7 separate regions of the Homo sapiens genome follow, and all the other regions are reported to be linked to region 1. The links are microRNA targets in miRTarBase. Many come from high-throughput screens and were not tested one by one. Region 1 holds a microRNA gene; each other region holds the end of a gene's coding sequence. Distances are between the middles of the regions.

Region 1 (3,079 bases):
TGGGGAACCTACTTCAAAGGCGCAGGGCCCACCAGGCCATAAAAATTTATGGGGGATGTAATTATGTGGCTCTGAAAACAGGCGACCGTAAATCTCCGGCAATGGCGAGTTTATAGCGGGGACAATTGGCTTCCCCAGCTCAACCCCCCCCCAACCCATGCCTCCGAAGTCCCTTTGGTGTAAAGCTCCAGGGGTGGGAGGGGGAAGGGGTGCCCACGCACTCACCCGTGCTCACGTGAACTTTGCGCATCCAGGGGTAGACGACGGGCTCTTTGCACGCGGAGTGGGACGGGCTGGGGTGCAGGGGGTTCTGGGCGCAGGGAGGCGGCGGGGGGCTGCTGCTGACCGCCTCGCAGCGCTGGCCGGGCTCCGGGAGGAGGGCCCCGGCGGGTGGCGGCGCAGGAGCCCGAGGGGACAGACCGGGCGGTGGCGGGGGCGGCGGGGGTGGTGGCGGAGGCGGCGGGGGCCCAGGGTCCCGGCAGGCCGCGTAGCGCTGCACGGTGCACGCCGCGCGCCGCCCGAAGCCCGCCTCCGGCTGGAAGCTGCTCTCTCGCCTCTGGCCGCCGGCGTAGTACCCGGGCGAGTGGTCGCTGGGTAGGTAATCGCTCTGTGAATATTCCTCGCATGGAGGGAACTTGGGGTCGACATAGTTTGAGTTGATCAAAAAAGAACTCATAGCCATTAATTTCTGGGAATTGCCCACAAAATATACTAAAATTTATTCCGACCCCTGACTCGTTTTCCTGTTTCCGAAAGCCCTCCTACTTACTGTCAAGTGAACAAAGTTAGGCGCCCACGTGATCCTCCGAGCCAATGGCCGCCCCGCCTGCGATTCCCGGATAAGGAAATCTGCTCACCCGGACCCCACTCCAGCCAAAGAGGTTTATTTCCCCTTCTTCCCTTCCCCCTCCCCACCCACCCACCCAACACCAGGATTTACATAGGGCTCCTGCGGGGCGACCCCCTCCTTGCCTCGCTCTCTCCGGGATCAGAGAGAGAGCGAGAGAGAGAGCGCGCGCAGGTTGCGACTGGAGGGCCTGTTGGGGCGCTAGGCAGAGCGCAAACCCTAGATCCCTTAAGAAGTTGGGGCTCCCGGTGTAGCCCTCCTGTTCTGCCTCACCTCTGCCCAGCATTCTGTACCTTCCAAAGGCCCCAGTCTCCTCCCCTCGGCGGGAGGGAGCGCTAGCACCCTGCGTCTCTATGGGGAGTTAGGTTACTGGCGGGTTGGGGGCTCCGTCTCGAAAGGGGAACCCATACGGGGGCCAGAGCACAGAGCTTGGGGCTTTTCTCTGCAGCTGGATGGGGAAGGGTAGGGGTGAGAGAGGAGGCGTCCAGAGCTAGAGGGCGGGTGCGCAGAGGGACTTGTCAGAGATGAATGGAACCGCGGGCGGATCGATAGGAAATTCATGCACTAATTCGGGGAGACTTCGCCTTCCAAATCTCATTTAGCTGCACGGTTAGCTAGACTGTGTCCGTCAGTCCGTCTGTCCCCCTTCTCCTATCCACTCCTCCCTTTAACCCACACGGCCCAAGCCTGGAGAAACGACTTGGTTTCCCACACTATAGACAGAGCGCTGGGGTAAAAAAACCTGCAACTTTTGAGAGCAAAATTGATTAGCAATTTGCTAATTCCATAACCACCCGAGCAATACTAACCATGGGTCCGAGACGTTCTAATTGTCGCCGCCTCCGCGGCGAATAGAAATCTCACATCCCTTTGATACTGGGGATACAGCCATAGAGGTGACCCACACAGACAATAACACTCCTTGGTAATCGAGTATTTCCAGGTCATCTTGTTCTGAACTGAAACGGAAAGGCGGCCTCAGCATCCGTTTGTTAAACAAATTTCCTTTGCCTTCTTCGCACACTGAAGACAAGTCATTTTTTTTCGCAATTTCCAATAAAGCCTCCCTGAGCCCAGAATAGAAAATGGGTGCGTTTGGGACGAGAAGATAAATTTAAAACTTCAACAACAATAACATTAACCTCTTAAAGAGATGTGAAAAGGGACCAAGGCTCCCAGGGGCAGGCGTGGGGAGAGTTCAGGTAGATGATTTCTCCATCTCTAACCAGTTGAAGGAGGAAAAGATAGAGGAATAAAGAGGAAGGAGTCTTCGTGTGGCCAGTCACCAGACTGTCCTCATTCAGAAAAATACTACATATACATATATATATATTTTTTTCTTCTGGAAAAATAAGAGCGGAGTGTTTATGTCAACTACATATTCCCCTAGATACGAATTTGTGACCACAAAATTCCTTACACAAATTCGGATCTACAGGGTATATACAGAAGACAGACAGATCTTCTTGGCCCAGAAATTTTCCAGTTCTCCTACTTTCCGCGCCTTCTTCGTTTGGGGTGTGGTTTGAGTGCTTTGGTTTTATTTCGTTTTGTTCTAGTTTTGAGCTCTGGGAACAGAAAAAGGCAGTGCGAGTCTGTTCTTGGGATTACAAGGTTTTCAATTCTCCTCTTCTATTAGAATTTCAAGTAGCCAGTTCGCAAAGGGACGAGAACCTTGCCTCCGCCGCCGCCGCGCAACTCTCGGTGGCGCATGAATTATGAGATGTAAACATTAGCTAAGCACAAAAGGAGGAAGGGTCATTCTGAGGCTGCCACGAAGTCAGATTCAGGCCTTTCTGGGTGCCTTCGCGCCCCTCCCCTCCCCCCAGGACTTTTTTTTTTTTTTTTTTTTTAGAAAAAACAAAACCCCAATCGGCTCCTCCGTGCCCCTCCAAGCCTTTAGTTTGTGATCAAACGAATATCTAGATATTTTCCAAAGCGCCTCTCAGCGAAGGGAGGAGGAAGAGGCGGCTGGGTGTGAAGGTGGTGTAATAAAAGTCCTTTTGGAAAAATTCAGTGGTAAAAAGAGAGAGAAACAGCTGTAAAGAAAAATGCTGGGAGACCAAGCAGATGGGGCCCCGGATATTTAATGACGGGCAATTCCGTTTACAACCTGAGAAAAGATCAAAGGCGTTTCATTTCCGAATGAAGGGCAATGAGGAACCATAAAAGATGCAGCCAGATGATATAGGGCCCCTCCCAGCCTCTCACACATCCTGGGAGCCAGGAGAG
Region 2 (3,079 bases), not on the chromosome of region 1:
CATGCTGATTCCTCTCAAAGGATAAAAGGACATGATGTCTACAACTTTCTTTCAAATTGTTCAGAGAAAAAACTGATATCTAACTATATTTCTGACATCCATATATACATACACATATATAAATGGGGAGAGAGAATGATAAAGCAAATAAGTTCTTTGTTATGTTCTTATAATTCTTCCATAATTTTGAAGTTCTTTCCAAATAAAAAACTGACAAATAAATGTATTTGGAGATCATGAATTTCCCCATCACTTGAAGTACTCAATTCTGTTGAATAATTGTATTAGAAACAAGTGTGATTTTAAAGGAAAATACAATTTGTGAAGTTAACCTCTCATTTTATTTTTTTTTTTTTTGCCAATTTTTCTTAAGGATGGCAAAGCAGAAAAAGCTGACACCTCTACTTCTGGGAAAGCAAGTATGAAATCAATTCTTGAAAACCTGAGTGATCTTTGGGATCAAGAGCAGTATGATTCAGAGTACAGCCTGGAAAATTTTATGCATTCTCTCAAGTAACTATCAAATATTGTAAATGCAATTGCTGCTAGTTCAGTTACATTTCTGCTGATATTCAGCAAATTTCTAAGTTTATGGTGAACTTTTAACTCAATGTGTAAATAGATCTGGAGAATATTCAGCATAATGCTGGCTCTTGTTTCACTGGGGGAAACAAGTTATTCTCAAATATTTGCACTGTATTAAATTTAAATGTTAATGTGAAATGGTTTAAATTTTACATGCTGAAAAGCTGCAGAGCAGAGGAACCAAACCAGGTTTATTTGTGCTACCAGGAGGTGTTCTTAATGGGAACAGGCCTCCTATCTTTAGTCACTTTGTACAGGATGATATCCATGAGTACTTTAGTGTTTGTATATGTTTTTTCTTTTAAATAGAACTTGTTTTTATAATTGATTTAAAATAGGGCTTTTTTTCTATAAAAGCCTTAATGAGCCATAATTTTAAGAATATAAGAATAATGACTATGATATTGGTCAGTCTTAGAACATGAAAATGTCAGACAATGAATTTAATCGGGCCCTTGGTGGAAACATTTATATATTTAATGCAGATGCATAGTGTTTTTCAAATCTTTAACATCATTTTTTCAACTTTTAAGATATAATATCAACTATTCTAAATACAGGTAATGGTATATTTAAGGCTACCATAACATCCTATTTAGAGGGTGGTTTTTTTTAATTTATCTAATGGCTACGATATAGCCAGATTCAAATAACATATGTACTCAATAGGTTTCAATCATATATATAATATATTTTTTGTAACTATGAACATACACAGTTTTCCAGAAATAGATTTTACACTGTTTAGAATTCCAACACCTACAGTGGAAAGACTGTTTATTGTAGTAATGCATGGCTGAAGCATAAAAGGGAGAGAGAATTTCTTTATATACACAAACATACATGAATATGCATATCTATATGCATAGATGTACCTATCCTGCACCCAAAAAGGTGCCTGGTATTGGCACTAAAATCATGTAGTTATACTGGGCAGCAATAATAATTGGGCATGAGGCTGATTACTCAATGGTGAGGGTAGGTATATGTAGATAGATGTGCATGTATGTGTTTGTATATATAATTTTATAAGTTTCACGCATAAATTAATACATGCCTGTGTGCATACATATGTATGGGATATATTTGTATATATATGTACAGGTAATAAACATCCCCAAGGTTTGTGGCTGGCCATACACATAGGCATCAGTTTAACAACCATCAGACCTCAGCTGTACAATAACAGGTGTTTTGTTTAATTAAAATTATACTGTTCTGCAGCATTTAGACATTTGTCACATTTCATTAGCTTTGACAACCATACTGTAACATTAAACCTAGCATTCCACAAGAGAATAAATATAAGATTGAAACTGTAAAATATATGCAACTGTGTGTTATTTGTAGGAAATGGTCACTAGAAAGAGCAAAAGATTATTCAGGTATACAGGTTTTTTTTCATTGTTTAGGATTTTAACTCAAAACTTTATGTAGAACATTTCAGTATATTTGAGTTGAATATTTTTTTATTAACTATTTATTTGCTAGTTCCATAAACCAGCTCTTTAACATAGCTTATAGTAATTGATATTTTCTTAGAATAAGTACAGAGCAATATATCATTAAAGGGCTATGAAGGGGCAAAAGAAATCACACCATAAAAGTTAGTACTTTTTCCCAATCTGAAATGTCAGATAGAGCTAGAAGTCAGATATTTAGGCTGTTTAAACTTTCTGAGAGTTTAATCAAAAGGTGTGTATTTCTAGAAGGATGACTAGAAAAATGATGTGTGGTTGCTTCTGAATGGGAAACAGGAGTCAGAGCTGACAGGAAAACTTAGAGTGGCTATAACATTTTTAAAATAATCTTTTGAGTTGTAAAATAGTAAATCACACATTCCAACTTTTCCATAGAAAGGAAAACATGTAAACAGGTAAGAACTAAGTATTCTTAATTAAATGACCCAGTCATTGTAGTACATCTTAAGAATAATGAAGAGATGTGGAGAATTGAACTGAGTAATGAATGATATTAAAGAACTGCTGTCAATTTCATGGATGTGATGATTTGGTAGTTTTTTCAATGTATGGGTGTGGGAAGTCAAACAAGCATGATAGAATGTTAACTATTTTAAACTGGGAATTGGGTTCATAGATATCCATTGTACTACTTCCCTTGGTTTTTGTGTCTTTATGATAGGAAATAGCAAACTGTTAAAAATATAGATTCAGAGATTATTAGTCTTATCATTTGGGTTTCTTGTAGGAAAATCTTAACATTTGGGGGCCTGGGTATAATTTTTGTTTCATATATTCACTCATATATATGCTTATTGTATATGCTTATTTATTCTACAAACATTTCTCCAAAAAGTATTCTAGTGAAAGGGTAAAAGTCTTTGATGTTGGGACTGATTGAACTGGTATAGCCTTATTCCTTCTGGATGGTTTATATGAACTTACTTATTCAAAAGTAAATATTCCACTGAAGCTATTTGAGAATGTGATCACTTATAGACAAAAGTGGAATTCGAACATAATAGAAATTATAC
Region 3 (3,079 bases), 48 Mb from region 1:
TGGCATGCGGGTCCCTGACCTCGTTGGTCCGCCAGCCACACTTCCTGGCTACAGGCTTGGTTTGCCCTTGACTCTGCCGAGTGAGGATCCACAGTTGCTCATTATCACCAGTATCTCTTGCCTTATTGAACATAACACTCTGTACTGGATTAATACTCTTTAAATGTTAAAAAATTTTTTTTATTTCTCTTCTCTTTTTTTTGGAGCGGGGGTTTGGGTCCTTTTTTTAATGTTAATTTTTTTTATTGTGGTCAGTACAGTGAGATATAAAGTGGGCTATGTCTTTTGTTTTTCAGGCTTGGAGTCAGTGTATATTCTATTTCTATTTTACAGGCAATGGCAGCAGATAAAAGTGACGAGTGGTTTGCCAAACACAATAAACCCAAAGCTTCAGGTTAACGGAAGACATGATGCAGAGCAAGCCTCTGTGATTCCTGCCCAGCACCTGTGAGGCCTGACGTGTCAGTTCCCAATAAATGCTCTTCTGATTTGTTTCCCGTACAGGCAAGGAGGCTTGGGTAGTGCAGATTTGTGTATTTCAATCTTTGAAAGCTCTGATGTAATTTAGAAATGAAATCCAATCATGAGTCCAGGTAGAGAACGCCTGCTGTAATCTACACTGTTGCTGGGACTGCGCATTCTGTATATAACTGTGTTGGATGAGTGACAGATGATTGTCCAGACTAGGACAGCGGCATGAACATGACTTTGGTTGGGATTGCGGATAGTTAGGGTTACCTCTGAATCGTGTAGCTTTTATGAGAGCAGCTGTGCAAGTGAATCCACATTAATGCCTTGTCGTGGTGCCATTCCCAGCGCCTGACGATACGCTCTTCTATTGTCTTATTCTGGCAGGTTTTGACGTTTTAAATTTTTTAAAGAAATTTTATTCCTTGGACCAAAAGGTTTGGTTAACCACCCCCCTCTTACTTGCTTTCACATTTTGAGTGTCCAGAGGAAACAGAAAGGAATGAGTGTGTGACGTTGCTGCACGCCTGACTCTGTGCGAGCTTCTTTCTGTGTATATATTTTGTTTTATTTTTTTCCGTGTATATTTTTAATCCCGACAGAACATCATGTGAGATTTCTTTAAAATGGATTAAACGATTTCTTCAGCCTGAAAAAAAAGGTTTTGAAAATGTTTTCTTGTAGTTTTGTTTGGTTCTAAACAACAAATAGGTTTTAATCACTCGAAATGGAATTATATTGTGTATTCATTGAATAAATTTTTTTTGAAAGTAAGCTTCTGAAATCAAGCTGTGATACCAGTCTCTAAGTCTCATCATGTAAAGTGGTGGCCAGGTTCAGATTTTTAAAAATAAACTTAGGAGATTGGAAGGGATTGACTCAGAGGATCCTGGTTCCCAAAGAACACATAGAGAATTACTTGTAAATCGTAACCTCTGCTTTCCTCCCTTACTGGCAGGGCGTAGGGCATCGAAATTTTGGTTGTATTTGAGCTTATCTTCTTATAGGGGTGATGCTATTATACCTTCACGGAGAGAAATAAATTCTCATCCAGCTCTACAACTTTTCATTCAGCTTGAATTCCATATCCTAGGGAAGCAGTCTTGAGTTTCAAAGCAAACCAAGTTATATATATGGCCCTCCTCTAGGTAATTGGTTCTTTTTATTTTTTATTTTTTTTTTTTGAGACAGAGTTTCGCTCTTGTTGCCCAGGCTGGAGTGCAATGGCGTGATCTTGGCTCACTGCAACCTCCGCCTCCCGGTTTCAAGCGATTCTCCTGCCTCAGCCTCCCAAGTAGCTGGGATTACAGGCATGCGCCACCACGTCTGGCTAATTTTGTATTTTTAGTAGAGATGGGCTTTCTCCGTGTTGGTTAGGTTGGTCTCGAACTCCCGACCTCAGGTGATCCACCTGCCTCAGCCTGGGATTACAGGTGTGAGCCACCGTGCCCTTCTCTTTTTTTTTATACATGTGGAAATTATTATATGAACTTTGAATAACCAGGTAAACTTCTGCTTCTCTTTAGAATGTATGTTAATTTTCCAATTTTCTATTAGATTATTAAGTAATTTTTAATGTTCATCTCTAGTAATATTGTCCTTGTGAAAAGAAACTCCTTTTCCCAGTGTATTGGGCTGCTATAATGTGGCCCTCGAAGTTTGTTGTAGTAAAATAAGTGGTTTATATAAGTACCGAATAACTAAATAACACACACAGGTTTCCCTTTTATCTGCTTATCTTGTATTTTGGCGTACCAAAACGTTTTTCTCCTAAATATACAACTGTGCATGATAGTGGGCACCATGCAGGGTGAACAGTAATGCTGTTTGTCTGCATAGGACATTTTGGCTTTAGGAGATCTGCCTCCTTTTATTTATTTCATTGCCTGTCATGTCTCGCTTTGTTGCGTTTTGTTTTTGCTTTTGTTTTTGTTTTTTTTTAAGACGGAGTTTCACTCTTGTTGCCCAGGCTGGAGTGCAATGGCGCAACCTCGGCTCACCGCAACCTCTGCCTCCCGAGTTTGAGCGATTCTCCTGCCTCAGCCTCCCAAGTAGCTGGGATTACAGGCATGTGCCACCACACATGGCTAATTTTGTATTTTTAGTAGAGACGGGTTTTCTCCATGTTGGTCAGGCTGGTCTTGAACTTCTGACCTCAGGTGATCAGCCACCTCGTCCTGTTGGCGTTTTTTAACATTTTATTCATCCTAAAGCCCTCTAGTGTACAACTTTGGCTTTTTATCAAGGCATCCAGAAGCTTGCTTCTGCACAGTTCAGCTAAGTAATTCTAAACCAAAAAAGAGTAATTTTTAAAAATTATTATTTAGGCCGGGCGCGGCGGCTCAAGCCTATAATGCCAGCACGTTGGGAGGCTGAGGCAGGCGGATCACCTGAGGTCGGGAGCTCGAGACCAGCCTGACCAACACGGAGAAACCCCATCTCTACTAAAAATACAAAATTAGATGGGTGTGGTGGTACCTGCCTGTAATCCCAGCTACTCAGGAGGCCAAGGCAGGAGAATCCCTTGAACCTGGGAGGCGGAGGTCGCGGTGAAGCGAGATCACGCTGTCGCACTCCAGCTGGGCACCAAGAGCGAAACTCCGTCTCAAAA
Region 4 (3,079 bases), not on the chromosome of region 1:
CAGGAGGCAGAGGAAGGAGGAAAGGGGGAGGGCTGGAGCTGGGACCCTGGGAAAGGACATGGACAGGGAAGGGTGGGGAGCCTCAGGAAGAGGCCCAGAGCAGGCAACAGCCAGAAGGTGGGGCGGGTGTGGGGGTGGTTGCTGAGAGAGAAGGGAAACCCTAGGCAGAGGGAAGCCAAGGCCCAGCAGGCTGAGTGTCTTCTCAGGAACTGTGCTGACAGCCTCAGGATCCTGGGCCTTAATTTGGGTCTTTTAATGTCTTGATCTCTCCCCTACACCAGGAAACCCTCAGAGGCCCAGGCCCACTCCAGGACACAGCCCATGGGAAGTGAAGCCTGCACCAGTGACCCGCGTTTTTTGTTTTGTTTTTTTTTTTCCGAGACTGAGTCTTGCTCTTTTGCCCAGGCTGGAGTGCAGTGGTGTGATCTTGCTCACTGCAACCTCCGCCTCCCAGGTTCAAGCAATTCTCCTTTCTCAGCCTCCCGAGTAGCTGGGATTACAGGCGCCCACCACCATGCCCGGCTAATTTTTGTATTTTCAGTAGAGACGGGGTTTTGCCATATTGGTCAGGCTGTTCTCGACCTCCTGACCTCAGGTGATCCAACTGCCTCGGCCTCCCAAAGTGCTGGGATTACAGGCACGAGCCACCGCACCCAGCCAGCATTCTTTTCTGTAAGAAAACTAAGAGAGCCGAACTAACTCCAAGGGCCATGAGGCCTGCGCAGATCACTAGTACTGCAACAGGATCCCAACAGCAAATACTGCAGATCTGCTTGCACAATAAACGCAGGACCAGCCAGGCACGTGGCTCACGCCTGTAATCCCAGCACTTTGAGAGGCCGAGGTGGGCGGATCACGAGATCAGGAGATCGAGACCATCCTGGCTAACACGGTGAATCCCCGTCTCTACTAAAAATACAAAAAAATTAGACGGGTGTGGTGGCGGGCGCCTGTAGTCCCAGCCACTCGGGAGGCTGAGGCAGGAGAATGGCATGAACCTGGGAGGCGGAGCTTGCAGCGGTCGCACCACTGCACTCCAGCCTAGGTGACAAGAGTGAGTCTCAAAAAAAAAAAAAAAAAAAAAGAAACGCAGGACCCAAACACTTCTTAACACTTCTTACCACCTCCACTACTACCATCCTAGAAAGTATTCTAGGTTGCAGGAACAAACCATCTTAACTGGCCTCCCTGCAAGCTGGCTAGTAACAGCCAGTGAAGTCTGTTAAATTCCAAGCGAGACCATGTCACTCTGCTCAAAACCCTCCAACAACTCCCATTCCACTCCCTCAGACTCTATGTGTAGTGAAGAATTCTTACTTGGAAGTCTGGCCTTTACCCTCGGCTACTGGTAAGTGCCCTCTAGACCCATGGAATGTCCTGACCAACAGGAGTGTCAGTGATAAATGTGATTTACGATCTGAGCTTTGGAACAGGCAACCTCTGGGGGAAATGGAGACAACTAAAGGCCTTAGCCCAAAGCTCTCACAGGGGCTGAAGATTAAAGGTCAGCCACAGGGCACTATGTGATTAAACACCAGGGGAAACTCGGCACACCCAAGGATCAAGTGAGCTTCTCTGGTTATATCTCCGTCATGGCCGGGAAGAAGTACCAGGACTCCATTGCAAGATAGCAGGAAGCTTCTTATTTAGCTCCCTCCCAGACCCCGCCCCAGGCCTCTCATCTTTTGGCTGGCTCTGGGTATGCTTTTGCTGTAATAAAACCATAATCCCAATACCTTCCTGAGTTCTGAGTCACTCTAGTCTATTACCTACCTGAAGGTGGTCATGGGGACCCCTGAACTTGCAGCTGGTATTGAAGTGAAAACAGACTTGTGGGGACCATGCCCTCCAACCACGTAGGCTGCCAAACTCTCTGCACCCTACGTGACCACCTTATTACAACTGTCATGATCTGCCCACTCCTTGCCGATGAGACTTCATCCCTTACTCCTTTCCTCATTCATATCAGCCAGGCTCCCACCCCTCAGTCCCAGGAAGCCCCTTCCCCAGATACTCACCAGGTGAACTCCCTCACTTATTAGGCCTTTACTCACAGGTCACCTCCGTGGTGAGGCCTCCTTTGGCCCCCTCTACCCTGAAACACCTTTCCTGCTTTACTTTTTCCTCCATAAAAACACTGTCACCATATCCTCTGCACTACAACAGCTGTGTCTTTTTTCTTTGCTCCCCAAAGGGTATGAGCCCCAAGGAGGCAGGAATTTTTGTACTGTGTTCCCTGCTGTGACCCCAGAACAGGGACAGTTTCTGGTATGTGCTGAGTGTTCAACAAATTCTTGAATGCATGACCTCTAGTATCCTTTAGAAATACCTTTTAAAAACCAGACCATCCCACCCCTACTCTCCGTGAAAGGCCAAGTCTGCAAAAACAGGAAAACTAACTATGTTTGGCTAGAGCCCTTTGCTGAAGGGGATGAAGTTAAGAGTCGGCAAGACCCAAGATGTCCAGAGAGCCCCGTGGCCCAGCATGGGTGAGGCATGGGTGCTTTCCCAGCCCTGACACCTCCATGCTGTTGACTTTGGGAGGCCCCCTCTCCTCTGGCCCTGGGACCCTACATAAATAATGAAGGAGTTGGAGGAGACGCATGGGAGGGGAGGAAGGAGAGAAATTCCTGCTATGAGAGAAGCAGAGGGAAGACTTCACCATGCAGGGGTGACTTTTATTTGAAGGCAGAAAACACCCTATTTGGGGGTTCACTCATAATCTGCAACAGTTTGTTTGTTTGTTTTTAAAAAAGAGAAAAATCAGAAGCCAAAGGGCCTGGGAAGGAAAGGAGAAGGGTAGTGGGTCCATGTCAGGCTGAAGTCAGGCCGCGTAGGGGAAGCGGAGCAGCAGCCCTTCGTGAGGCTCCAGTTTCAGGCGTTCCAGCTCAAGAGGGGAGCCCTCCTCACGGCCTGGCTGGGTGCTGAGCAGGAGGTCAGCCTTGGCTGGCAGGCTGGCGCTGGCAGGCAGGTCGGAGGCCTGCAGTCCAGCCGAGAGGCCCACATCCCCAAAGTTAAGCACTACCAGAAAACGCTCATTCTGGTCCCAGTGGCGGATATAGGAGAAGAGTCCAGGCCC
Region 5 (3,079 bases), not on the chromosome of region 1:
ACAGGCCTGGCCTCTGCACACCCAACACCTGGTCTGGGGGGTCTACCCCAGAGTGAGCTGGGGAAAGCGGGTACCTGGCCAGGCCCCTTGCAGGGCAGAACCTCAGGTGGATGGGCCTCTCGGGGTCTGGCCGGGTCCCCCCTCTGTGTCCCAGGTGTGCAGGGGCTTCCTGCTGGCAGGGCTGTTTTTCTGGGTCAGGGCCACGAGTCCCAGGCCTTGTGCCCATCCCAGCCTCCCCCGCCCACCCCCCCATCTCCCCCCTCCACCCCACCCGTGGCAGGACTGTCTACCCTCCTGCTCCCTCTTTCATGCTAAGCTCAAGGCCAGGCCGGAATCCGGCCGGATGACAGGGTGTGAGGCTCCACCCCAGGGAGGTGACAGTCGGCCTTGCTGGCTGCAGCTGTCGGTGACACCCCCTCCCGTGGGGATGGGGGTGGGGTCGGCCCTCTCCCGGGCCCAAGGCCTTCTGGAGCCCACGGAGATGGCTGGCGGCCTTCCCCACCTCCCAGCCCTGCCTTGCCTTGCCTTGCCCTGGCTGGGAGCGGCCCTTCAAGGGATACAGCCGGTGTTGCCTGGGGGCGGGGACTCCCCATCCTTTCGGCTGCCCTAAGGCAGCTTCCCCCGCCCATGACGGTGACACACTCAGCAACTCGGCCCCTAGCCCCTTACCTGGGTGCTGCTCTGGCTGTGCCCCGGTGGGCTGTGCCACCCCCAGGTCGGCTCCTCTGTGTCCCCGGCACTGCTGCGTCCCCGGCACGGGCAGAAGCTTCCAGGCAGCAGCGCGGATCCTGGCCTGGCTGCTCAGTGCTGCCCCTGATGGCAGCTGAAGGGGCTGTACTTAAAGGGGCCGCACCCAGTGGGGGCTGCACCGTGGAGCTGGGGATCATGAGCTGCACTGGCTCCAATTTGGGGCTGTGCAGAGCACAGGGTCCCTGCAGCACCCCCAAGACACAGACCTCAGTGTCTAAGCAGGAGTCTTGTGGCCCGGAGCAGCCTGCCAGTCCCGCCAGTGTCACCCCAACACACTTGCCTGAGAGGAGGGGCCCGAACCCTGGCCTGGGCTGCAGAGATTGGTCAGGGGCATCTTGGAATTCGCATCTCCTGTCGGGCGAGGCAGGAGCAGATGGGCTACTCTGTGCCCCACTGGCCTCTCCCCAGGCCCTATCTGCTTCAAGGCTGCCAATGCCAAAATCTTGGCGGGTACCTGGGGCCAGATGGCCCCTGCAGCCTCTTGTGTCCCCAGGATGCCATCCTCTCTGGGTGAGGCCACTCCTGCATCCGGTCCCTGCCAGCCTGGGAAGGCCTGCACGTGACCTGCCATACCTGCCTGGTAATGTCCTCGTCCCACTCTGCCAGCCCCTCCCCAAGGCATTGGGCCTGGGAACGTTCTAGCTTGGCAGAGGGGTGGGGAGCTGATGCCCTTGGCTCTGAAGGGCAGGACCTACCCCATTCTGCACTGTTCAAAGCAGGGCCCACTGAAACCCCAACATAGCCGTCCATGGTGTGATCCTGTCAAGTTCACGTACTGTCGACCCATCCCCACACCAGGCGAACCCCTGAACCCGGCCCTGACCTCATGGGCTGTGGGCTAAGGGGCCAGGCTAAGCTTGCTGTGGGCCACAGCACCTGCTCAGGGACTGCAGTGACTGCCCAACACCCTGGGGCCACAAGGCTCCCAGGCAGAGGAGCCTCCAGCTTGGCCACCTCCTCCCCTTCACTGGCACACTCTTCCTGCCTGCCCTGCAGGGTTCTCATGGCAACAGTAGCTGTGGGGGTGGAGGCTGGGCGCTGCTGACAGCTGGAGGGGGCAGGAGCCTGAAGGCGGGGGGCAGGGCTGCAGGCGGCTGCCTGGGAGCCTTGCAGAGTGGACTTCCACCTCCTGGGGCTGAGGTCGCCAAGCGTGCTGCGTGCAGCTGCTGAGCCCTGGCACAGGTGGGCTGGAATGTACCCAGGGTGTGGCCAGACTTGGTGGGACGTCCTCACACCACTGCTGGGCAGCCTCCTGCCAACCCACGGCAGCCTGGGCCCGGGGCAGCGGGAGCAGAGGTACAGGCAGAAGAACAGACACACGCAGAGTGAAACAGGAGTGCTTTATGGTCTGAGTGGAGTGTTTGGGAGGAGTGCCTCCCGGCTCCTGCCTTCGGGCTCACCTGAGCGGGGGCGCAGCTGAGGCCACTGTGGGAAACACAACCCCCACTCCCAGGAGAGGCCTCACATGCTGCCTTCGGTCTCGCCAGCCTTCTAGCGTGGGGCCTGGGCCGCCCTTTAGGGTGAGTCTGCACACCCGTGTTCAGGGCTCCCGGCCGGAAGCGGAACCATAGGCATGCTGCGGCCCCAGATGAGCGCGGAGGGCAAGCAGGTGCCGGGGCAGCGCACACCCCACAGCCAAGCGGCCCCTGCCCAGCCTCTGTAAACAGACCCTCACAGGTCCCTCCTGGGCCTCAGTCACATCCCTGAGAAACACTGGCGGCTCTGCCCCGAGAGGGCCAGGGTGTCCACCGAGCCTGGCTGAAGCCAGCTGTCCCCTCCCTTCTTGCAGAGCAGGCTCACACTGGGCCTGAAGGCCCAGCACCTGCAGGGCCCAGCCTGGGGACCACCAATGCCCGGCCTCTTCCAGCTCAGAAGCGCACACGGCAGCCACGGGGCAGCGGCAAAGGCGATGGTACAGAGGCAAATGCCTCCCCAGGCAGTGACAGGCACGCCCCCCGCCCCAGGGCGGCCACTGCCCACGCCGGCCTAGAGCTCCTCGTAGTCGCCACCCCCAGGGTGGCGGCCGCCCGGGGCCCCGCCCCCCAGGAAAGCCTCCAGCTCATCGGCAGCCGTCCTCTCCCTGCTGCGCGGGGGCCGCTGCTGCCGCCGTCGCCGCTCCTCCTTGCCCTCCTCCTTGTCCTTGCTCTTCTTGTGTTTGCTCTTCTTCTTGGCAGCTTTTTCTTCTTCCTGAGGAGCACAAGGATGGGGCGCCATGGAGTCACAGGAAGCCACAGCCCTGGTCCCAGGACCGCATGCCACCCAGTCCTGGCCTGCCAGGAAGGGGAGTAGCCAGTACCTCTTTGCCTTTTTTCTTCTTCTTCTTCTTCTC
Region 6 (3,079 bases), not on the chromosome of region 1:
TGAAAATTTCCCTATTATTTCACTATACCTTAAAATTTTGAATACTGATTGTTCAGATTTAGTCAGCTTCTACTTTGTCTAGGGTCCTTTTAAAGGGAATGCCAGAACTCAAGTACATTTTCCATGTGAGATCTGATGAACATAGAACAGAATAGAACTATCACCTCTGTAGACTTAAGATTTTTGTACTAACTGTATCTTTGTTTTCCTAGGGTGATACAATTCTGGAGACTGGAGAAGTAATTCCACCAATGAAAGAATTTCCTGATCAACATCATTAAAGATTATGTAAAAAGTTAAAAGGCTTATGAGCCTAAGTTTGTTCCTATATTACCATATTTACTGAATTTTCTGGAAAAGTAACTTTAATAAAGTTTAATCTCAGAAATTGTCATATCTGTTTTCAAGCATTGTACAATTTGAGACTGAGTAATTTAACAATAAGTAAAAAGTGGACATGCTAAACAAATATGAGAGACTACCTACTTTTTCTGGTCATTCTTGACTTGGAAAACGGTATGGAAAAGTATTTAGTTACATGTTTGTTTGTTTTTTTCTTACACAGTACTTACACTAATTTGGTATCAGGGTATGCAACAGTGAAATATCACAATAAACAAATGTAAGAACAGCAATTCCATGCACTTTTGTTTTAAGGAAATCTTTCCGGCCAGGCGCAGTGGCTCATGCCTGTAATCCCAGCACTTTGGGAGGCCGAGGCGGGCAGATCACGAAGTCAGGAGATCGAGACCATCATGGCTAACACAGTGAAACCCCGTCCCTACTAAAAATACAAAAAAATTAGCCGGGCGTGGTGGCGGGCTCCTGTAGTCCCAGCTACTGCGGAGGCTGAGGCACGAGATTGGTGTGAACCCAGAAGGCGGAGCTTGCAGTAAGCCGAGATAGTGCCACTGAGCCTGGGCGACAGAGCAAGACTCCGTCTCAAAAAAAAAAAAAGCTTTCCGAATCATTTTTGAAGAATTTAGAAACTTGATTGAAAAGCTTATTCCAACTATGATCTGACACTCAAGACTGTCAGATTTAGGTTGCTGTTAATTTTGTCATGAGAATGTAAAATACTAAAATCTCTAAGTGAAAAATTTGCATACTAGTGCTTGTTATAAAGGATAATGCAAAAATAAACTTGGGAACTTTGCATTATGAATTTTATTTTTATATCTACATAAGCATGAGGGAAAGAACTGTATTTTCAGATAATTAAATCCAGAAGAGTTACAAATTTTCATTCGTCCCAAAGATTTTGTCTGGGTATTTCTTCCTTAGCTGTCGTCTTGCAGACACCATCGAAGCATAGATGATGCAGCCCCAGGAGATTAAAACGATGGCAAGCAGCAACTAAACCAAAAATCGCAAAGGAGGTGTGAAATCTACCTGATATTTCCCCTCGCCCCCGTCAGGTTACCGTTGCCATTGCTAAGGTGGGAATTAAAGTAACAAAGTCGAATAAATGGGGTTCCAGTGGCGGGTACACCCAGCAGCCCTTACGTAAGAAGCGGAAGATCGTATCCTCCAGGAAGAGGCGGAGTCGAGGTGAGGGAGTGAAATGCTTAATTCAGGAATGGATTTTGGAGTTTCTGGGTGCTGAAGAAATAGGGCCTTTCCGCCTGCGGGCCCAGTGAGTCGACACGGTGGGGGCCCGCGATCCCCGGGACTTACCACTGAATAAATCCAGTCCAGCGTGCGACGACTTACTGGCTTCATGGTAAGGAGGCGGCAGCAGTCCGCGGGAGCTGGCGGGAGCTGCGGGCCTTACAGTAACCTCCCAGGCGGTGGCTGCCAGGCGCCAGCAGCCATCTTTTAGCCGGGCACGAGCGCCCGCCCACTCGCTTCGTGCAGCGCTGTCGCTGGCCTCTTCCGCCCGGAGTTGGGGGGCGGTATCACGTGATCGGGGGCCTTGCCCGCCTTTTAGAGAGGGGAATAAACGAGAAAATGTTAAAAATTGCTTTTTTTTTTTTTTTTTTGCCAACTAAGGAGATAGGCGTACCTCCACTGGTTTTCTTTCTAGTTGCAATGCAATATTAATGCAGGATAAGGTGCTGTCGTGTCCATTTAAAAGTTAATTTGAAAAACAATCCACGTTTTAAATATTACGTCTGGCTCTAAAGCTGGAAGAATTAACGCTTTCTCCCCCGCTCCCTCCCCCACGCCTCCCCGCATCTGATACCACACGATTTAGATGGACGTTCGCCTGTTCATCTTTGACGTAAAAATACCACCCACTCTTTTATATGTGACAAATCGTTGTGGGAACCCCTGTAAATCGAGCCATTCTTCAGAAACGTATAGCGTAATGTATATCTCTAAGAAGAAATACGTGGGACGCGTTACCCGCCATAATGTATCAGTCAAGCAACAAGTGTTTGTTGAGCGTGTCTGATGTTCTTGAACTGCCGCGCGTGAGATACTAAGCCCCGAGCACGGCAGTTTGGTGGGCGAGCGTACCAGGTTCAGCTCTAGAATGTTTGGGGCGCTCACATTTGAGGCCTGAGGAGTAGAATCTGGCAACGGGCCGCTTAGGCTCTAGACGTTCTTTATACCTCGCAGTTATCTTAAAAGAGTTTTAGTCTAGATTTCAGGGAGTGGGAAGGGGAAGAGCGGAGAAAAACGTGGTCTGTTTAGGGAGGAGTCCAGGCCCTGTTTTGTTAGGTTGTCCTGTTTCTCCCCAGCCTGGAGGGGATCCCTCTCTGAAGACTTTATAGGATACTGGTTGGGCTCTGGTTTGGGATCCCGTTGGACTCCTGGTGTTGCTTCCGGGAGGCGTACAACAGGAGGTGAGAGACTTCAAGTCCATCTAACAATTCCCCTATCTAGACACTAAAGATAATTTCCTAAGTTTCCGCAGAGTTTGGTAAGGTTGAAACGACATCGAACTAGTTCTCGTGTTTTCCGGGTAAGTTAGGGGCGAACATTCAGTCAGTGTCCCCAGTGGCTGAGTACCAGTAACAAGATGGGGAGGGTCGCGCTGCCCTCCTCCGGGGTCTGGAGCGGCGGGGGAGGGGCCGCATTTGGGCCGGTGCGCTGAGCCCCGCCCCCGAGGCCGGCGTCCATCTGCTGCGCA
Region 7 (3,079 bases), not on the chromosome of region 1:
GAGCCAAGCCCATTGTTGTTGCCATCTTGCTAGGATCTCAGACCGTGGTGGAGGAATCGCTCACAAAGATCTGGACCGGGTCATGGACTACCACTTCACTACTGCTGAGGCCAGCACACAGGACCCCCGGATCAGCCCCCTCTTTGGCCATCTGGACATGCATAGTGGCGCCCAGTCAGGACCCATGCACGGGTGAGACCCTGCCAGGCCAGGATGGAGGGGTGGGGGACCCCAGGAGACTCAAGCCTCTGAAGCCTCCTGTCCTGTCCCCCTGCCCACCCCCAGCTTTGGCTTCGGGTTGCCCACGTCACGGGCCTACGCGGAGTACCTCGGTGGGTCTCTGCAGCTGCAGTCCCTGCAGGGCATTGGCACGGACGTCTACCTGCGGCTCCGCCACATCGATGGCCGGGAGGAAAGCTTCCGGATCTGACCCCACAGCCTTTGGCCTGCTCACCCGACCAGCCTGGGCCGCATTCCCTGCAGGACCTCCCGGGTCAGGCAGGGCGGCCCCCTGCTCCACACACTGCTGCATCTTGGGTCTCAGGGACCCAGACAGATGGACTTACATGGAGCTGGGCACTGCCCTGCCTCAACAGGGTCCATTGCCTCCTCGCCTCCAGAACTTGGAGCAGGGAAGTGGGCACCCTGAGGCCTCCAGCACCAGTTCCGTCATTCTCGTTCCTGGGGAACCCCCACTCTGACCTGTTATTAAAGTTCACATTTTGAATGCCCTCTCGGGCCCCGTGTGTGGGGAGGGCAGGTGAACTTTTGTTTCTGCCCCCATTCAGGTTCACTGAGCCCTTGGGTTGAACTGGTTCGTGTCCCAGTCTCTTACCTGCCCTGAGAGCCTGGCAGGCCAGGAGTAGAATGGGTCCCAAGTCTGTTGCATGTTTGATTTGGTGGGAGTGGGATGACTGCAGCACCTTATACAAAGAGCTTTCATTCATCTTGTTGAACAAATGTTTCCGGGTCCCAGATAATATTGAAGGCCCAGACTGACCCAGCTTCGGGCATCAGTTTTGACTCTTCCTTTCCTGGCAGTCACAGTTTCTAGAGGTGAAGGTCACCAGACTGGGCAAACTCCTGAGCCAACTGCTTCCCAAGCCTGAGTAGGTTAAAAATACTGTGTCTGCTGCTGCCAAGGAAAAGAACATACAAGGTTGTGCCTTGGCAGGCCCTAGCAGGGACTGGGTGCCCCACTGCAAGGAAAGGTGGGGCCCTGATAGAAAGGACCAAGGATTTGGGCAAAGATATCAGGTAGGCTCAAGGTTAGACCTGAATCAGAACTCCAGATGACATCTTAGGTAGGAACACCCTACCCACCTTGCCAGGGAAGAAAGGCCTAAGGGCGGCCTGGTGGGGCTGGGAGGAGAACTGGAAAGTTCTCTTGCCTTCACATGTGAGCTCCCACAGCAAACTTCCTGAGGCTGGCTCTAGGCCTGTACCATCTCCTACCCTTCACGGGGATGGAGGGGAAGTTGTATGTGGAAGCCAAATGGCAGGGGCTAGGAAACCACAGTGACTTGCTAGACTGAAAAATCCCGCCAGCTGCAAGGCAGGGTGCTGAGGCTGGAGAGGCAGGCAGCAGTCAGAGGCCAGGGCCCTGAAACATGGGATTTATCTTGAGCCATAGGGATCCATGGGTGAGTTTTTATTTATTTAGAAATGGGGTCTTGCTCTGTTGCCCAGGCTGGAATATGGTGGCTGCAGAGTTCACTGCAGCCTTGAACTCCTGGGATCAAGAGATTCTCCCACCTCAGCCTTCTGAGTAGCTTGGACCATCATGCCAGGCTAAATTTTAAAATTTTTTGTAGAAACAGGGTTTCTACAAAGCCCTATGTTGCCCCGGGCTGGACTTGAACTTCTGGGCTCAAATGATCCTTCCACCCCAGCCTCCCAAAGTGGTGGGGTTACAGGCATGAGCCACTGCAGCTGGCCCATGAGTGGGTTTTGAGCTGGGAAGGGATGTTTCTGGTTGGAGTCCCTGAGAGGATTCATGTCCACGTGATTTCTTAAGAAAGTGCTCCCAGAACAGAGTAGGGGAAGTAGGAAGGGGAAGGGGAGGAAGCCAAGCAAGGATGTGACCTCAGGCAAAAGCCCAGAACCAGTCAATTATGCCTCAGGGTTGAAGGTAAGAGAGCTAAACCTCAGAGTTACTGATTAATTTCTCCACTTGGCAGTCACTGGTTAAAGTCAGTTGGGAAAGTGAACAGCTCTATTAACCTAAGGATGGTTTTTTAAGAAGAGCCTCAGGTGCTGGTGTGGGTCTTTGAAAGCACATCAAAGGTAATCTGGGCACACAGAAACAGCAAGAACTCCCAGAGGATCTGGGTGGAGCACCTACATTGTTTTTTTGTTTGTTTTGTTTCGTTTTGTTTTTTTAAACGGAGTCTCAATCTGTTGCTCAGGCTGGAGTGCAGTGGCTGGATCTTCGCTCACTGCAACCTCCGCCCCACCCCCCCCCAACCCCAGGTTCAAGCGATTCTCCTGCCTCAGCCTCCCGAGTAGCTGGGATTACAGGCGCGTGCCACCACACCCAGCTAATTTTTCTATTTTTAGTAGAGATGGGGTTTCACCACGTTGGCCAGGCTGGTCTCGAACTCCCAACCTCGTGATCCATCCACCTCAGCCTCCCAAAGTGCCAGGATTACAGGCATGAGCCACCATGCCTGTCGGATGTTTCTTGATTTGTAACCTCTGAGAGACCCATCCGCAGGCCCTGAGCATTCCACTCCTCTCAGAATTGTTTCCAAGCCCAATAACCACATTATAAATCAAACAAGATTCAGAGAATAGCCAAAGGGAATGTTTACTGAGTACCTACCCGGTCTGGCACTTTGCAATACACTTGTATATTGCTAAGACGGATAGTTCAACCGTTACATAGTTATATGATTGATAGTTATACATGCTTAACTGCTGGGGATTGGTTCCAGGACCGCCTGTGAATACCGAAATCTGCAGGCGCTCAAGTCCTACAGTTGGCCCTGCCAAACAGCAGATATGAAGTCAGCTCTTCAGATCTGTGGGTTCTGCATCCTTACAATATTTCCTTTCCTTTCCTTTTCTTTTCCTCCCT

What was found. The annotated mature microRNA hsa-miR-10a-5p reads UACCCUGUAGAUCCGAAUUUGUG and lies in region 1 at 2,267-2,289, opposite strand. An mRNA with a match to its seed (bases 2 to 7 or 8) in the 3' UTR can be bound and repressed. Matches are read on the target gene's strand: a 7mer-m8 pairs with bases 2 to 8, a 7mer-A1 pairs with bases 2 to 7 and ends in A, and an 8mer does both.
Region 2: the mRNA of BTAF1 is a reported target of hsa-miR-10a-5p. The part of its 3' UTR that is shown has no 7-base or 8-base seed match.
Region 3: miRTarBase lists GLOD4 as a target of hsa-miR-10a-5p. The part of its 3' UTR that is shown has no 7-base or 8-base seed match.
Region 4: the mRNA of SLC3A2 is a reported target of hsa-miR-10a-5p. The part of its 3' UTR that is shown has no 7-base or 8-base seed match.
Region 5: miRTarBase lists RABL6 as a target of hsa-miR-10a-5p. The part of its 3' UTR that is shown has no 7-base or 8-base seed match.
Region 6: the mRNA of NDUFB6 is a reported target of hsa-miR-10a-5p. Seed matches in the 3' UTR shown: 7mer-A1 at 586-592.
Region 7: miRTarBase lists BCKDK as a target of hsa-miR-10a-5p. Seed matches in the 3' UTR shown: 7mer-m8 at 593-599.

Annotation. Positions count from the first base shown.
Region 1 is chr17:48,577,638-48,580,716 of GRCh38, forward strand. It overlaps MIR10A (microRNA 10a), which reads right to left and starts at 2,310; the gene lies at 2,201-2,310. The region is part of intron 1 of HOXB3 (homeobox B3); the gene reads right to left. It overlaps HOXB4 (homeobox B4), which reads right to left and starts at 713. Exons shown (of 2, transcript NM_024015.5): 1 at 226-713. The coding sequence starts at 682. It overlaps HOXBLINC (HOXB associated long intergenic non-coding RNA), which reads right to left. Exons shown (of 1, transcript NR_183916.2): 1 at 2,680-3,079.
Region 2 is chr10:92,028,417-92,031,495 of GRCh38, forward strand. BTAF1 (B-TFIID TATA-box binding protein associated factor 1) reads left to right here. Exons shown (of 38, transcript NM_003972.3): 38 at 374-3,021. The coding sequence ends at 517. Among named protein-coding and RNA genes, the nearest start is that of BTAF1, 110 kb to the left of the region's middle.
Region 3 is chr17:757,493-760,571 of GRCh38, reverse strand. It overlaps GLOD4 (glyoxalase domain containing 4), which reads left to right. Exons shown (of 9, transcript NM_016080.4): 9 at 334-1,242. The coding sequence ends at 399. Among named protein-coding and RNA genes, the nearest start is that of GEMIN4, 6.8 kb to the right of the region's middle.
Region 4 is chr11:62,888,439-62,891,517 of GRCh38, reverse strand. SLC3A2 (solute carrier family 3 member 2) reads right to left here. Exons shown (of 9, transcript NM_001013251.3): 9 at 2,658-3,079. The coding sequence ends at 2,825. Among named protein-coding and RNA genes, the nearest start is that of SLC3A2, 9.1 kb to the right of the region's middle.
Region 5 is chr9:136,840,180-136,843,258 of GRCh38, reverse strand. RABL6 (RAB, member RAS oncogene family like 6) reads right to left here. Exons shown (of 15, transcript NM_024718.5): 14 at 3,047-3,079; 15 at 2,072-2,937. The coding sequence ends at 2,737. It overlaps AJM1 (apical junction component 1 homolog), which reads right to left and starts at 781. Exons shown (of 3, transcript NM_001080482.5): 1 at 670-781. RefSeq lists enhancers at 1-536, 668-962, 952-1,091, 537-1,418 and silencers at 312-641, 1,588-1,882.
Region 6 is chr9:32,551,078-32,554,156 of GRCh38, reverse strand. It overlaps NDUFB6 (NADH:ubiquinone oxidoreductase subunit B6), which reads left to right. Exons shown (of 4, transcript NM_002493.5): 4 at 213-1,156. The coding sequence ends at 281. It overlaps TOPORS (TOP1 binding arginine/serine rich protein, E3 ubiquitin ligase), which reads left to right and starts at 1,571. Exons shown (of 3, transcript NM_005802.5): 1 at 1,571-1,723. The coding sequence starts at 1,721. SMIM27 (small integral membrane protein 27) reads right to left here and starts at 1,830. Exons shown (of 2, transcript NM_001387564.1): 1 at 1,678-1,830; 2 at 1,150-1,356. The coding sequence starts at 1,722. The coding sequence ends at 1,234. RefSeq lists enhancers at 1,083-1,796, 1,601-1,930, 1,941-2,150, 1,797-2,511 and a silencer at 2,791-3,010.
Region 7 is chr16:31,111,836-31,114,914 of GRCh38, forward strand. BCKDK (branched chain keto acid dehydrogenase kinase) reads left to right here. Exons shown (of 12, transcript NM_005881.4): 11 at 34-192; 12 at 286-956. The coding sequence ends at 430. Among named protein-coding and RNA genes, the nearest start is that of KAT8, 4.3 kb to the right of the region's middle.